2 separate regions of the Homo sapiens genome follow, and region 1 is linked to region 2. Evidence: fine-mapped expression QTL. A gene starts in region 2. The other region holds a variant in brackets. All regions are shown on one strand. Distances are from middle to middle. Region 1 overlaps MFAP3 (microfibril associated protein 3). Region 2 holds the start of MFAP3 (microfibril associated protein 3).

What was found. PIP is the estimated chance that this variant, and not a neighbour inherited with it, causes the effect. A credible set is the group of variants that fine-mapping cannot tell apart.
Region 1: its variant is the best candidate, but not a certain one, in a credible set for the expression of MFAP3 in whole blood (INTERVAL, PIP 0.72).

The regions. Positions count from the first base shown.
Region 1 is chr5:154,055,064-154,063,395 of GRCh38, reverse strand. It overlaps MFAP3 (microfibril associated protein 3), which reads right to left. Exons shown (of 3, transcript NM_005927.5): 3 at 5,946-8,332. Among named protein-coding and RNA genes, the nearest start is that of MFAP3, 20 kb to the right of the region's middle. RefSeq lists an enhancer at 4,623-4,672. The variant C/T (reference allele first, on the strand shown) is at 3,915.
Region 2 is chr5:154,034,240-154,042,583 of GRCh38, reverse strand. MFAP3 (microfibril associated protein 3) reads right to left here and starts at 3,617. Exons shown (of 3, transcript NM_005927.5): 1 at 3,573-3,617. FAM114A2 (family with sequence similarity 114 member A2) reads left to right here and starts at 3,674. Exons shown (of 14, transcript NM_018691.4): 1 at 3,674-3,727; 2 at 7,617-7,840; 3 at 8,207-8,306. The coding sequence starts at 7,631.

The sequences.
Region 1 (8,332 bases), 21 kb before region 2:
TGATGAAAATAAAAGAAAAATGAAAAAGAGGGTATTAAACCCTCATCCTAACCCCAACCTAGGAACACCTACTTTAGTATGGTCAGGGAGGCGTCTAATGGTGATAACTAAGCTGAAATCTGAATTCTGAATGCTCATAAACCAGTCAAGGGAACATCTGGGGTAGATCATTCTAGGCAGAGGGGCAGCATGAAAAAGGTGGTTTTTTTTTTTGTTTTTTTGTTTTTTTTTGAGATGGAGTCTTGCTGTCTCCAGGCTGGAGTGCAGTGGCGCCATCTCAGCTCACTGCAACCTCCGCCTCCCGGGTTCAGGCAATTCTCCTGCCTCAGCCTCCTGAGTAGCTGGGACTACAGGTGCGTGCCACCACGCCCAGCTAATTTTTGTATTTTTAGTAGAGACGGGGTTTCACCCTGTCATGTTTCACAACCGTTTCATGTTGGCCAGGATGGTCTAGATCTCTTGACCTCGTGATCCTCCCGCCTTGGCCTCCCAAAGTGCTGGGATTTCAGGCGTAAGCCACTGTGCCCAGCCCTGAAAAAGGTTTTAAGGTGGGAGCAGACTTGGTGTGTGTGTTAGAGGAACAGCAAGGAGGCCAGGGTGGCTGGGATATAATGGGTGAGGTGGAGAGTGGTGGGCAATGAGTTTGGACCCATAGGAGAGAACCAGTTCATATTAGCATCCTGTAGGCCATGGCAAGGAGGATGGATTTTCTTCTGAATTTTTTTTCAGTGAGGATAAATACTGTGGCGTATAGGCAGAGGGTGACATGACATAATTTATTACTTTCACAATTCATTCCAGTGGCAGTGTAGGGAATGGATGACCTGGGGACAAAAGTGGAAGCAGGAAGCTCAGTAAGGACCATCAAATAGTACATGTGAGAGATGGCAGGGTCTTGGGCTAGGATGGTATCAGTGGAGGTAGGGAGCAGTGGATGGATTGCATATGTTTTTTGAAGTGAGACAGTAGGACTTGTCGACATAACAGATGTGGAGAGTAAAGCAAATAGAGTCAAAGATGATGCTTTTGCTTGAGCATATGAGATGATGGTGTCATTTACTGAGAGAAGACGGCAGGGGTGAAACTGGTGTATTTTTTATTATAAGGGAAAGGAATAAGGAATTCTATATTTGATATATTAATTTTGAGATGCCATGAGAGATGTCTGGCCAAGTGGAGATGTCAAGTAGGAAGGGATTAGATCTACAAGTCTGAAAGGCTACATTTGGAGCTGCAATATACCTTTGGGAGTCATCAGTGTGAGGATGGCATTTAAAACTTTGGAATTAGGTAATGCCACCAAGGAAGAATGCTATGGAGAAGTGGTGGCCATACCTCCCAAGCCTTCATTCTTAATTCTCACATCAACTGATGGACATAGTCATAGACCACAGAACAAGTTCACTCCTTCCGTTCCATTAAATGCAGCAAACATTGTCTTTTCTATATGAAAGGTGCCCTAAGATACAGAATCTACAAAAATAGATGACTAATATATGATGCCATCTTGTCAAGTTGCTAAAAAATTGTTAAGGAGAAGACAATTCTAATGGAAAATGTAGAATACGTTAAGGTATTTGCAAGGGACTGGGGAGGATCTTCAAAAGATAAATTTGGTAAGATAGGATGAGAACAGATCTTGGAGGGCCAAAGAATTATATTTTTCCTGCTTAGAGAACAGGGCAACATTGAAGATTTCTGATTTCCATGATCAGATTAACACCTTTCCTTCTGCATCCATGACTAATTCATCCTTCCATGTCTAGCTCAAATCTCACCTAGTCCACAAAGCATTGCCCATTCTCTGCTCACATACTCTTTTCATCTTTAAGTCCTCTTGCATTTATTTTCCAGCACTAATCCATTTAGCACTTGATACACTGACTCTTTCAGATGGTTTATGACAGGAACATCTTATTTTCTCAACTGGTCTGTAAATTCATTCTAGGCAGGATCTGACTTAAATCCATAGATCGGGCTCATGGCTAGGAACATAAGCCCTCAAATAATCCCTGTTGCGTTAAGTATCACCTCTTCAGGGAATTCTTCTTTGACCTAGATGAGGCTCTTTTGTTCTAGGCGCCTATAGAATCGTTTCCTTTAGCACACTGCTCAGTTTTAAACTATACACTCCATGTCACTATGTGAATTGGATCTGCTTTCCCATAGGATGTAAGTCCCCAAAGAGCAGAGACCATGTTTAGTTGTGCTTGCAGTTAGTGTTCCCAGTTTGGGTGCAACAAACAACTGCTAAAAATTAAATGAATACATGTGAGCTTAGGTGTTCAAAGGACGAAGGGGCTTTAGAACAGTGGCCTCAGGAATGGTCCAATTGTGTGCTTACAGCTTCTGAAAGAAGACTGAAATCCACAATGAAAAACTGCTACATGAGCGGGAGTGTCTTCTGATGAACTCCCTTCTGCTTACGGACAAACTACTTCCCAGAGGGTGGCTCTTCTATCTGAATGAGGCCCCTTAAAGGCTGATTTATCATCACTTAGGACACTCGAGTCCTCCCTATGGCATAGCTGAGTTGGAGGCAAAGCAGAGTGTTCCCAACTGTCAGGAAGAATAAGCATGCTGGCAGCAGCCTTGGATCCTCTAGGCAGATGGAGTGACATATGTGTATTTACATATATATATTTCCTAATCAATAGGTTCCAGCAAAAACATGAAAACTCAAGAGAATGATTGGAATTTAAGGGACTCTGAAGGAGTTTAATTCCTTAAAGAAAATTAGGGCCAGGTGCAGTAGCTCATACCTATAATCCCAGCACTTTGGGAGGCAGAGGTGGGCGGATCACTGGAGGTCTGGAGTTCAAGACCAGCCTGGCCGACACGTTGAAACCCTGTCTCTGCTAAAAATACAAAAATTAGCTGGGTGTGATGGTATGCACCTGTAGTCCCAGCTACAGGCAGGAGAATTGCTTGAACTGGGGAGGTGGAGGTTGCAGAGAGCTGAGATCGCACCATTGCACTCCAGTCTGGGCGACAGAGTGAGACTCCATCTCAAAAAAAGAAAAAGAAAAAAAAAAAAAAAAAAAGAAGAAGAAGAAAAAGGGAATCAGCGCAAATTTTTTTTTTCTTTTTTCTTTTTTTTTTTTTTTAGCTGCAGATGACTTTAGGAATAAAAACTAAGAGTACTCTTTGAATGATCAAACTTTCCCCACCAAATATGTAAATCTTCTGTTCCAAATTAGGTACTTCTAGCATTTCTTCTAAGAAATGTATTTCTGGGGCCAGCCAAAAGGAGCTTTGAAATCTTCTTACCATATTTTTGCCCCCCTGCCTGCTTCTGTGACTGTCTCCCTTCACTAGACACACTGGCCTACTTCTTCTGTTCCTCCAAAAGGCCGACCTTGCCATTGCTCTTTCCTCTGCCTGGAGTACCCCTCCTAACTTTTGAATGTCTGGGTCCTCATAATTTGGGTCTCAGCACAATGCCCTTTTCGAAGGGGGTTTTCTGACCCCAGTGAATAGATATACACTGCCAGTCACTCTGTCACTGTGGAGTCCCTGGCTCATGGAAGAACACTTGGCACATAGCAGGTGTCAGCAAATACCTGTTCATGAATAAATAGGTTAAGAAAAGCCAACTATGCCCCAGCAGAATCTGATAACCTGTCTGCGGTTTGAGCTACGTGTACTGGAGACAACAGAAATGATGACTTGAAGATTTAGCCTAGCACTTACTGCTTCTGATTCTTGTTTTGTTCATGTATGTGATCATCTTCAAGGAACATGGTTTGCAATTTTATCCACCACAGAACCACGTTTTGCTCCTGTCATTCATGTGAAGCTGACCTTGTCACACACTGCTTGTTACCCACAACCTCCATTTTTCCTCCTTTCTTAATTACAGAAGCCCAAACTTTGGGACAATGTGTCCAGTTAAAAATAAACACGCTCCTCTC[C/T]GCAAGCTTTCTTAGTTACAGCAGGTAGCCATGTCTCCTAGTTCTGGCCGCTGCATAGCAGAAGTTGGTTGAGGCTTCGGGAAAGCTATCACTTTCTCGATAAAAAGGTACAAACTCAGCTGCTGTGTCCTTTGTCCTTTGACCTTCTACCCTTCTCCCTGTCTGGAATGCAGACACGATACTGGAGGTAAAACAGTCGTCCTATGTAGCAGGTGCTGTCAGTGCTCTGCCCATTATTCGTTGACAGTCACCATTCTATTTACCACAGGCTTCCTGTTGAAAACTCCTTTTCTCTACCCGAGGCCTTTTGCTAGCTACAGAATCATGCTGAGCCTGTAGAATGCAGTCTGAAAGTGGGGGTTAGTGACCCTGGGAGCAGCCTTTAACTAATGACAGATGGTAGTTGGTGGATAAATATCCCAGCTCTTTGGCCTTGAGGTGGGACAACTGAGGCATGAGCTACATACACCTGGGGCAGAGAGAGCTCCCTGAGGTCCCCAGCGGGACTGAACACTGGTTGCCCACAGCAGTAACCCACTCATTAACACATCCTGTGTAGGCTTTCTTACTTTGCCTGTCTCACTTCCCCATTTCCCTACCTTCCTGGGATCACTTCCCAAATAAACTATTTGCATGTGAATCCGTTTCTCAGGAGCTCCTTCTGGGGGAACCCAAACTAAGACATCTTGTGACCTTGAGGATGAAAGCCACATGCTAAGGATAGAGAGCAGTCTAGAAAGAGCCGAGTCCCTGATGCCAGTTCTTAAGCCCCTGCACCAGCCTTGGACTGCCTATCTCTGGATTTGAGAAAAATAAATCTCTTAGCTATTATGATAAGCCACCACGATCAGGTTTCTATGGCATGCAGCCAAATGCAATTCTCAGAGGTGTGGAGGAATTTTTAGTTGACCACAAATGCAAATATAGTCATCAGTTGGACAAGGCTACTAACAAAGCTGACGCCGGCTCATGACTAGCCCCTTACAGTGTGGTAGATCAGAGCTATCAGTGTTTGCTTATCGGTTGCTATATTTAATCCTTGTGTTAATTCTGTGAGGTAGGCATTATCAATTCTATTTTACTGAAGCCGAGAAAGGCTGAAGCCCTTGTCCATGGTTACAAGGCTAGGGGTGAAATCAGGATTTAAAGTCCAGCAATCTTTTGCCATAGGGATATAAAGGCTAGATTTTCATTCTAAGGAGTCTGTGGCATTTAAGTAATGAGTCACACCTCCCATCTGTTGCCTTTGCGTTCTCCTAACACCTTGTGCTTTTCCATGCCTGTTAACCATCACCACTCTTCACCCTGATGGGACTGCAGACTTTTGCTTCTACCAGAGCTAAACCTCCTGCCCGCCAAATCTCACCATAAACTACACACTATAATCACAAGCTCTTTAAAAATGTACCAAATCTTCTCATCTCTTTTTCTCAAGCTCTTGCCTTTGCCAAAAATGCTTTACTTCAGAAGAGTAAACTGCTGTATTTGGGCCCAGGGAGGATAGTCTGGTATCTGCAGGCCCGTTGTGGGCAGGATACCCATCTCAGTGTAGCTCATAGCACTGAAAACATACACAGTGCTTAGGTGTAAATATTTGTAAAGTTAAAGTGGATTCCAGCCACACTAGAATCCAAGTTGAATTCAAATTTACTCCTATGCTGGGGGCTGTGGCTCATGATTGTAATCCCAGCATTTCGGGAGGTCCAGGCAGGAGGATTACTTGAGATCAGGAGATAGAAACCAGTCTGGGCAACATAACGAGACCCATCTCTACACACACACACACACATAAAATTAGCCACGTGCGTTAGCGTGCACCTATAATCCTAGCTACTCAGGAGGCTGAGGCAGAACTGCTGAGCCCAGGTTGAGACTGCAGTGAGCCATGATCATGCCATCATACTCTGGCCTGGGCGACAGAGTGAGACTACCCTCTCCCCAAAAAATTACCCATTTAAAATCATTAACGTCAAGTTCCATCAAACATACAAATTTCGTCAAACATACAAATGAAACATACACTATAGAAAATTTCAAATAGACTATATACTCCATTGAACGTTTAATAAATTATATTCAAGTATGACTTTCTTTAAAAAAGAGACAAAATTATAATGCAAGTATTTATTAAAATGCTGACAATTTAAACATCCTCTGAATTATATGAAATACTTATTTACTTTTGTGAAATGCGTTAGTGAAAATCTAGGAGTTTCTATGTAAGGCTGAGCATTTTCAACATTCCTGGCCTAGATGAGAAAAGAATGCATTCTCTTACTGGTACTCAGGAAATATTTATACAATACACTTGGGTTCTACTTGCTGGTGTGTGGAGACTAGGCTAGCACCCATGACTGGCTGGGCTCTAGAAAACAAGCATGCAGTGCTCCTGTGCCATCTGGGACCCAAGAGACAAAAGTCTGATCTAGGGTGAAGCTACATGCAGAGGGTGAAGAGGACTATACCAACAGCCTCACTTGTCTGGAGGAGCAAAAGGAAAGCCGTGCACAGATATTGCTTTGACCTTAAAATATTTGTTAAGTGAGGCAAGAAAGAAGCCAGGAGTCTTCTCACAACCGTTCCAGGTCAGCAATTTCTAAGATATTTCTATCAAGGTAATTGGTAGAAAATATAAATGCGTGCTGGCCCTGACTCAAGAATTAAACCATCGTAACATATACATACACAATTTGGAGGACAGGCAGTTATCAAACAGTCTATAAACTCAAGTGGGGCATCAGCTCAATTAATACCTGTCTATCTGGCTTCAGCTGGTAAGGAATCATAAAGATGTTCAAATTTTGATTTTTGGTGAATGTATTTCACAAAGCTACCATTTCATAAGGACAATAAGGTTCACTATATCACAATACACGACAAAATTTACAAATGAGATGACAGCTATTTTAAATACATTTTGTAAAGGCATTTTCCACTAACTATAAAATCCAGTGAGACAAAAAGATAATTACACTATAGTTACCATCAAGACTTTTAGACTGTAGTTGAAGTTCAAAAGGTTGATTTAAAAAAAAGATAACATGAGGCTTAATTATATATGAAGAGTATTTGATTAGATACAGAAAACATTAGTAAGTGTGGTTTTCTTCCTCTTGAAAACTAGCTTTACGAAGTAATACCAACTCCAATTAAATTTTGACCTACTTTAATTCCTCATCAATGGCACCATAAGCTGGTACACTCAAAGTAAACCAGTTACTTTGGCCACCAAATTAGGCCACCTCTGTTTCTAAAATAACTAGGATACAACGGAGTAGCATGCATTTAGTTACTATACAGTATCGTGCAAACTTACAGACTTTAAAAACATTTCCTCCATTTTTCCAAAGTTCTGTTTCTTAGGACTTTGATTTTAAACATGTCTACCTTAGGGTTCTAAATAATAATGTCTCCTATGAGAACATGTGGGGTAAAACCATTCTCTAATTTGACAAGCTATATTCTAAAAGATTACTGCAAACCTGCTATGTTAGGACAGGGTTGAAAGTACTATCTGAAATCTGAGGGATGTTTAGAGGACTGACCCCCAGACAAGGGATTTAAAATGTTTTTTGGCCAGGCACAGTGGCTCATGCCTGTAATCTCAACACTTTGGGAGGTAAGGCAGGAGGATCATTTGAAGCCACAAGTACAAGGTCAGCCTGGGCAACAAAGTGAGACCCCCATCTCTACAAAAAATAAAAAAAAATTAGCCAGGAAAGGTGGTGCACACCTGTAGTCCTAGCTGCTTGGGAGGCTGAAGCAGGACGATCGCTTGACCCCAGGAGTTGGAGGCTGCAGTGAGCTATGATCTTGCCACTGCACTCCAGTCTCAGTGGACAGAAAAAAAATTTAATTTTTCCAGAGAAAAGGGAAGGGAAAAAGTGTTCCATAATCTAGGATATGTTCAAGAGCCTTTGCTCTTATAGTCAAATATATAAAAACAATTTTCCTTAAAGAAATACCAGTCTATGAGCCAAGGCAAGCTTTGGCTAAATGATTGGTTAGCTTTTATTTGGCTCTAGAGGTTTCCATGGAAACAGCCTGAGAGACAGAAAAGGCAGCATTATCATCTTTATCCATGATGCCATCTGATAAAACTGCACATTGATTCATTCATGCTATTCAGAGCAGATGTATTACTTCTGATAAGCCTGGACAAAGGGAGGCATGAGTTTTATCCCGTCACGCTTTGAATTTCCTGTCTTCCCCTGTTTGAAACCTTAAATTAAAATCCTGATAAAACCTCCTCTGAACATTTCCCTCAGGAGCCTCTAGCTGAAGTAATGCTTCAATAATCAGAAGTCATATGAAGAAACGTGAAGCCCCAAATGGAGCTCCACTGCCAAGTTCTTAAAATTATATGGCACCACGCTTCCTGTAGCTGAAGAAATTGTTCTGAAGAGTATTTACAATTC
Region 2 (8,344 bases):
AGACTCAAGCATTATTATAGGGATCTGTAACTAAAAAAGGTTAGTGACATTCAAACAGAAATCACTATCCTGAGGGCCATTTACTCAAAAGTTTCTAATTAAAATAGCCTTTATATTACTACCTTGGAGCTATCACATACCCCATAACTAGCATTTGGTCAGTCTGAGCTCAAACTTCAACATATCTTCTGGCACCTGGAGAAACATCGTCTGTATTTATCAGAGCTTTGCTTTAAACCCAGGATTATTTCAGTTATACCCATAACTTATATCCTTTTTGCCATAGGTATATTTGCTGAATAGCTACTGGATGCAAATGACAAAAACATCAATGAAACAGGCTTAGATTTATGATCTTCCCAGGCCATTTTTCCCCCTCTATAGTCTGAAACATCTCTATTTGAAACTCAGTCTAGTTAAAACAGAACTCCTCTTACCCTCAGATCTACTTGTTCAGCTTATGAACAGCTTAGATAATAGCCAGACAATTCTTCCAGTTTTGCAGTATCAAAATTGTAAGACAATCATGGCTCAGTGGTTAGGAGAATGGGCTCTAGAGTTAAGGTGCCTGATCCTACCCCTGGGTGAAGCCATAGGCTTGCAAGGCCTTAGTTTTCACATTTATTAAATAAAATAATATTAACAGTAACTGCATCATAGGGTAGTTTTGAGGATAAGATGAACTAATGTGGGTAAATTATAAATATATGCTATTGTTATTATTCCACCTCCTACACATTTTTCAATTAAGTCCTGTTGTCTCTGTCCTAACTCATATCCTTTTATCTCACCTGGGTATACCACACTATCCCCTTAATTTCAGAATGGATCTCCTTAACTCCTTTTACCTCTATGATGTATCCAAACACTGTGACACTCAGAATTGGTCCTAAACACAAATCTGAGCAATTCAGGGTAATTTTACAATCTACTGGTGATTTCTCACTGCCCATGAGATAAGCTTAAAATTCCAATTTGGCATTGTAATTCTCCAAGAATAGATTCAGGCAGCAGAACAGAAAGTCATGAGAAGCCCAGAGGTGCCTCTATGTACGATAATTGCTTGCAGGAGGAATGAATGGATTTAAACATTAAGTCTGGTCTTTAGTTTTACCTCTATCACAAATTAGCTATGATGTGCTCCAGTGGTTTTAGTTTCCTCACCTAGAGGCTGATTATCATTATCATTCGTTTCTTTGCTTAAATCCTATAATCTACCCAGCTTTCCTGCCATGGCTGAAAGCCTAAACTACGCTTGTTTTACTTTATTCTCTCTAAATAACTTTTCACCTTACTAGTTGTTCCTTTTGCTTAAAAATCTTTCTGCCCCTTCCCGTCAATATCTTTCTGGGGGAAACTGTACCCTCTCTATAATATTCAACTCTAATTTCATCTTATTCAGGAAACCCTCTCATGCCCACCCTCTTGTCAGATGAGTTTTTTTTTTTTTTGCTCTGTCAGTCCCCTAGCACATTAAGAGTACGCCATTATAAGACTTATCAGTTTTCCTCTTAGCAGTTAGTTATCCGTTCAAAAGACTGTAAGCTTATGAATGATAGAGTCTAAAAACCTTCTGTCCTTAGCACAGGGCCACTGCCTGTGGCAAGTGCTCAAAATTTTGAGTTCAGACACTCATCGACTTGGTAGTGTGAAAGGTGTCTGCTACAAACTTATTAACTTTCCAGAGCTTCAGGCTCTGGAAACTATTGATGGAGAGAGGTGAAGATAAGAAAGACACCTATCTTGAGTTTTAGTAGGCAGAACACTCTAGAGAATCATTTGACTGGTTTTCTCACTCTGTAATTTTCAGACCATTTATATCAAATTAATTTGTGGTGCTTGTTAAAGATGCAGATTTCTTGACCCCACAGACTTATTGAATTGGGATCTCTAGGGGATGCCTGGGCATCTGCATTTTTAATGTGCATATAGGTTTATTGATTTACAAATCAAACTCATATTTCTTTTACTGGCATGACAATCACCGTAATTCAGTGTAATTCTCAAAAGTGTGGTGCAGGAACTCCTGGGTGTCCCTGACACTGTTTCAAAACAATTTACATAATATTAGGACATATCCCTTTTTCACTCACATTCTCACACAATATGGCACAATTTTCTAAAAGTTACATGATGATTGATATTGTAAGAGAATGAAGGTAGAAGTTACGAAAATCTAGCTGTCTTTTATTCAGCCAGACATTAAAGAGATTTGTAACAATGTAAAACAATGCCATTCTCAATAATTTTTCATTTTGGAAAATATCCTTTACAGAAATGCTATCTATGTTAACATATAATGAGTTTATTTTAAAATGAATAACCTTTGTTGAAAGTTGTTTTCTAAAATAGTAAATATTGATAGCTATTATAAACAAAAACCCTTTGAAGTTCTCAATACATTTTAAAAGTATAAAGAAATTCTAAGATCAAAAAGTTTGAGAACTGCTGCTATAATTATCAGCAGCATTTAAAAAATAAGTGGCTTCCCAAGATTCCATACTTTAGCCCCAAATTCTATGCATTTTCCATTACAACAGAAAATCAGAGGAAATGATCCATTTTATATTTAAGCAGGGGTTTTTTTGTTGTTGTTTTTTGGAATTTTAACAAGCTTCCAGGTGATATTGATGAACCTAAATTTAGAGAACCACTGTCAAAAGCAAAGGAAAATATCTGAAGAGTTTTAGAAGTGACAATTACTCTTATCTGGGAATTAAGATGATAATTCCGAGGGCATTAAATGGAGTTGGAAAACATGAGTTCTTAAAGGCTAAGTCCCTTCACCTCTCTGGGATTCAGTTTTTCTTATCTGTACAATAAGATTGATTTTAATATTTTACTAGCTCTGTCAGTCTGGATTTCATGCATTTTCACTGCTCGAGGGCAACAGAAGAGTTGCATCTTTCTGATGAGGTCCCAGGAGTAATCTTAGAGTCATAAATCAGATCATGTCATTCATCTGCTTAGAAACCTTCAATGGTTTTCCACTGGATTCCAAACAAAAATCAAACTCTTTATCCTTGCTCATAAGCCTTACAAGATTTGGGCTCAAGTCCCTGGCCTCATCTCTCTCCATTCTCACCTTGCTCCTTTTGCTCTAGCCAGTGGCCTTTGTCTTTTCCTTGACTTTGCTAAGTTTGTTCCCACTATATGGCCTTTGCACGCGCTATTCTCTCTGCCTGGAATGCTCTATTCCAGATTTTCATACGGCTTATTACTCTCCCACTTCGTTCCATCACATTATCCAGTCTAAATTTCTTTACAGCACTTACTACCACCTTAGATAATCCCGTTTGTTGACTTGTTTATAATCTGCTTTTCGCACTGCTTGAGAGCAGGGCCCTTCCGTTCGTTGACTGATGTGTCCCTGGAGCCCAGGGCAGTGCCTGGCAGGTATCTGGCTCTCAGTAAGTGTTCGATGACCGAACTCCCACACCCAGGCCAGACTTTCAAAAGAATGGCAAACATTTTCGCCTCCTGCACTCCCGACCCCAAGCCACAGGCTACGACTCACGCCTCGGCGCTCCTAGTAGTCCCCTCGCAGCGACCCCAACCAAGCCGTCACCTACCCGACCGCCGTCTAGCTCCTTCCGGCCTCAGCGGCGGCTTAACTCGGAAGTTTTCTCGGACACACCGGCACGCCTCTGCGCTGAAGGAGCACTTCCGGGGCAGTAGGAACGCCGAGTCGGCTGCCGTGGCTGTGCTGAGGGTGGCGGCCGGATAGGTGCGGAGCTTCCTGAACGAGGCAGGAGGGGTGCGAGGTTCAGGGGCAGGGCCCGGGCAGCCGAAGTCGTTAGGGAGGCGGTGACCTGACGGTGGGCGGCGGACATCTCGCGGCAGGGTCGAGGGCTGTGAAAGCGGTTTAGTGATTGAAGCGCTACGTTTGTGTGAGGAATTCTTGTCGTTGTCAGCGCCTGAGAACTTAGTTGGGAGCGGACGTTTACGTCGAATCTCTCGTTTGGGACCCCATTCTTGAATGTGGGAAGAAGTGAGAGCGCATGTTTGCTCATCTAGAGACAGCCGTATTAATAACGATAGGATACAAACCATCACCCCACCAAGTGATAGCAGCTGTTAACCTGTGGGCGGTTACGTGCCGGTCACTGTTCCAAGCCCCTCACATATCGCGTCACTGAATCTTTATAGGGACCCAGAACTCCATTTGACAGATGAGGAAACGGAGAGGCAGACAGGTGACCTGACTTCCCCACAATCGCTGCAGGACAGGAAGAAAGTAAACTCCAGAGCCCGTGCTCTTAGCTACTAAGCTGTACTGCTCTTCATTTTGGTAAATGGGGCGGGTGGAGTGTATATATACGTAATATATATGTGTGTGTGTAAGCGTATGCGTTTTTATTTCTTAAAAATATGGCTCAGCCGTATTTATTTACAGTTATTGGAATCTTTCTCCTCCAACTGAGAAAATAACTGGAGGAGAAACTACAATTATTTCTACACGCTTACTACACAATGCCTGGAAGACTTACAAAAACACTAAATAGTGCAGTTCCACGTACTTGGTGTTTATTCCTTTTTTTTTTTTAACCTTTCTCCTAGATTATGAATGAGTTGAGGAAAGAGATGGTACAGTCATTCTAATAACGATAGTAATGATAATATAAACAACCATCACCATAAAAAATTCTCTTCTGGCTTAGCTCAAATATCTGGCACAAATGAAAGAATAGAGATAACCAGTGTTTAATATTTTAGTAAAGGGACTGTTTTGGCAGGGCATGGTGGCTCACGCCTGTAATTTTAGCACTTTGGGAGGCTGAGGCAGGGGAAGATTGCTTGAGGCCAGGCCTAGGGTTCAAGACCAACCTGGCCAACATAGCGAGACCCTGTCTTTAAAAATATATTTTGGAGTATGTCCTTCCAGTCTTTCATGGAATTATATGAATTTATGTAATATGTATATTATATATTCTACATATAGTATACTGTATATATTTATGATGATGATAATGATGCGTTGCAACCTGGAGAGAGCATAAGGAAAAGATAGGAAACATTTATTCATATACACAAAACATTAATTGAACTTTGTGCAAAAACTGTCTCGTCTTTCCTATTAGATAGGCCCTTGGAGTGAATGGCTTACATTAGTTCTCTATCTCCACAGGTACTGTGGTACTACTTGGTACGTAGTAGGTACTCAAAAAATGTTTGCGAGTGAATGAATGGCTACTTCTAAGTTGGTTTGTATGTCAGTGAGTAGTTGTATCTGGATTTTTTCTCTATGTGTTTTGGAAATGTGTAATGTGTTTATATTATATGCCCATATATTCTGAACTCCATAGTGTTGTCTTAATCTACCTTTCTAGCTTCATGCCTTCCCATTGTTCTTCTCTCTGCCATGGTAACTACTCCCTACTGTAACTGTCCATGTTCCATACTGTCAGACCTCAGGCCTTTGGCTGTACCCTCATGTTATTTCCATATCCTTGAATCCTGTCATTGGCATCATCATCTGTCAAAATCATAAGCTTCTTTTAAGGCAGGTGTTGCCAACTCAGATGCCTACAGAGGTTAATCAGGTAGCATAATTTGAGTGAAGTGGATTTGCGTGGGGGATTGTAGGGAGCTGGAGAGCAACTGCCCTAGCTAAAAGGGCCCAGCGGCTATTTAGCACAAGCTAGTTATTACAGAGTTGAATGTGGGCCCGGTGTTGCTAGATCTTTTAATTTTACAAGTTAGAAGTTGGAAGCCTATATTTTTATATGAAGTCTGATTTTTAAATGTTGGCATCTAGTTTTTGCAAAGGTTAAATACTGTGCAGGCCAAATAAAAACATCTGTAGGCTGGATTTGGCACTTAAATTCCCAGTTTGTGACCACTACTCTAGGCTTATTTCAGGTACTTTGTTCATGAATTACGTTGTCTGATTCTAATGGAGTTCTGTTTTTTTTCAGCATTTTGTGTGTTGGATGGTCTGGCAGGGATGTTTCAGCATTTTGTGTGTTGGACTGAATGCAGCACCTGTTATAGTGCTGCATCCAGTCTGCCTTAGTTTTAATATGCCTTTCTTTTCTAATACATTAGAAACATTTTGATAGCATGGGTTGGGTCTAATTCTGCACTTAGTACATATCAGTACATACCTACAGCGTGTGTGTACATATGTGTGAGATGTATTGATTTCTACTCTGATAATCCTTGGTTATCCTGGAAACTAGTGTCTGTTCTTTGTAGAGACACCAATAGTATCTTGGCTTTAATTGCCAAAGAGCTCTACATCTGGAAGGAATTGAATTGAGTAACACTGGTATTCAAAAGTTGATCTGACATAAAGCCAATCTGATGGCTTAAATTTCATGATGTCCTGGAAAAATTGAGGTAGGAATGATTAATAACTAGTAAGATTTTTAAGGACAATAAGTAAAAGGAAAAATTGATAAATTATACCTCATTAAAATTAAAGACTTGCTCTGAAAGGCCCAATGAAGACAATTAAAAGATAAGCTACATACTGGAAAAAAATATTTGCAAACCACATATTATACAGAATATATGAAGAGCTCTCAAAACTCAACAGTAAAAAAAAAATCTCATTAGAAAATGGGCAAAAGATACAAAGATATTTCACTGACAAGGATATACAGATGGCATATAGGCACATGAAAAGATGTTCAACCTTATTAGGTCTTAGAGAAGTACAACTTAAATCCACAATGAGATATCACCACACAACTGTCAGAATGGCTCAAATAAAAAATAGGGACAATGTCAAATGCTGGCAAGAATGCAGAAAAACTTATCAGTCATACATTGCTGGTGGAAATGTAAAATGGTGTAGCTAGTCTGGAAAAGAGTATGGCAGTTTCTCATAAAACTAAACATGAACTTAACCATATGACCCAGCAGTTGCACTCTTGGTCATTTACCCCAGAGAAATGATAGCTTATGTTCCCCCAAAAACCTATACATGAACTTTCATAGCTGTTTTATTTATAATAGTCCCAAACTGGAAACAATACAGATATCCTTCGATGGATAAATGGGTAAATTGTGATACATCTATACTATGGAATACTACTCAGAAATAAAAAGGAAGGAATACTAATACAACTTAAATGGATCTTGAGGGGCTTATGCTGAGTGAAAAAAGTCAATGTCAATAGGTAATATGCTGTATGATTTCATTTATATAACATCTTGAAATGACAGAATTACAGAGATGGAGGACACCTGTCCATCAGAGAGATCAGTAATTGCTTTGGGTTGGAAGGAGTGTCGGAAGTGGTTATGGCTAAAAAAGGATAGCACAAGGGATCCTTGTGATTGAACTGTTCTGTATCTTGATTGTGGTGATAGTCACACAAAGGTATACATGCGATAAAATTTTATAGAACTAAATACAAATGAGTGCGTTTAAAACTGATAAAGTCTGAATGAGATCAGTGGATTGCATTGATATCAGTTTCCTGGTTGTGATATTATATTTGTGTAAGTTTTACCATTGGGGGAAACTGGATGAAGGTATATGGGATCTCTGTATTATTCCTTATACTTGTATGTGAATCTATGATAATCTCAAACTAAAAAGTTTAAACAAATACTTTATACCAAAGAAGCCTATATAAATTTTTTTTGGGCTTTCATTTTACCAGCTGATGTTCTAATCATGTCAGATAAAGATGATATTGAGACTCCACTGCTAACTGAAGCAGCCCCCATCCTTGAAGATGGAAACTGTGAGCCAGCCAAGAATTCTGAGTCTGTTGACCAAGGTGCCAAACCAGAGAGTAAATCAGAACCTGTAGTTTCCACTCGGAAAAGACCAGAGACCAAACCTTCCAGTGACCTTGAGACTTCAAAAGTTCTCCCTATTCAGGTATCACAGACCACAGAAAAAGTAGGGTATCTATTAAAATATTAGGATTAAAAAATGTTGGGGCTAAAAGAAATTTGGCATAAATACCAATTTAGAATTGCTCTTATTTCTTTCTCTTTACAACCCTAAAATACAGTCTTTTCAGTTCTATAAATGCCTTTATGAATAATTGCTTTTGCTATGTGGTACTTACATGCTGATAGCATATATCTGCCAGTCAAGCAATACATTTCTTTAGCTAAATAATATGTATTTGTTCACCCATGCTTTTGGCTAATAATTAGATACCTTGTCTGTACATTCTGATTTTCCTCTAATTTTTTCATTTTTCTTTGCCTTTTGTTTTTCTGCCTACTGGGAAATTAGGATAATGTTTCCAAAGATGTACCCCAGACCAGATGGGGTTATTGGGGGAGCTGGGGCAAGTCCATACTCTCCTCAGCCTCGGCTACAGTAGCTACAGTAGGTAAGATCATCAGTCATTTAGTTATTTTTGTGTGTGTA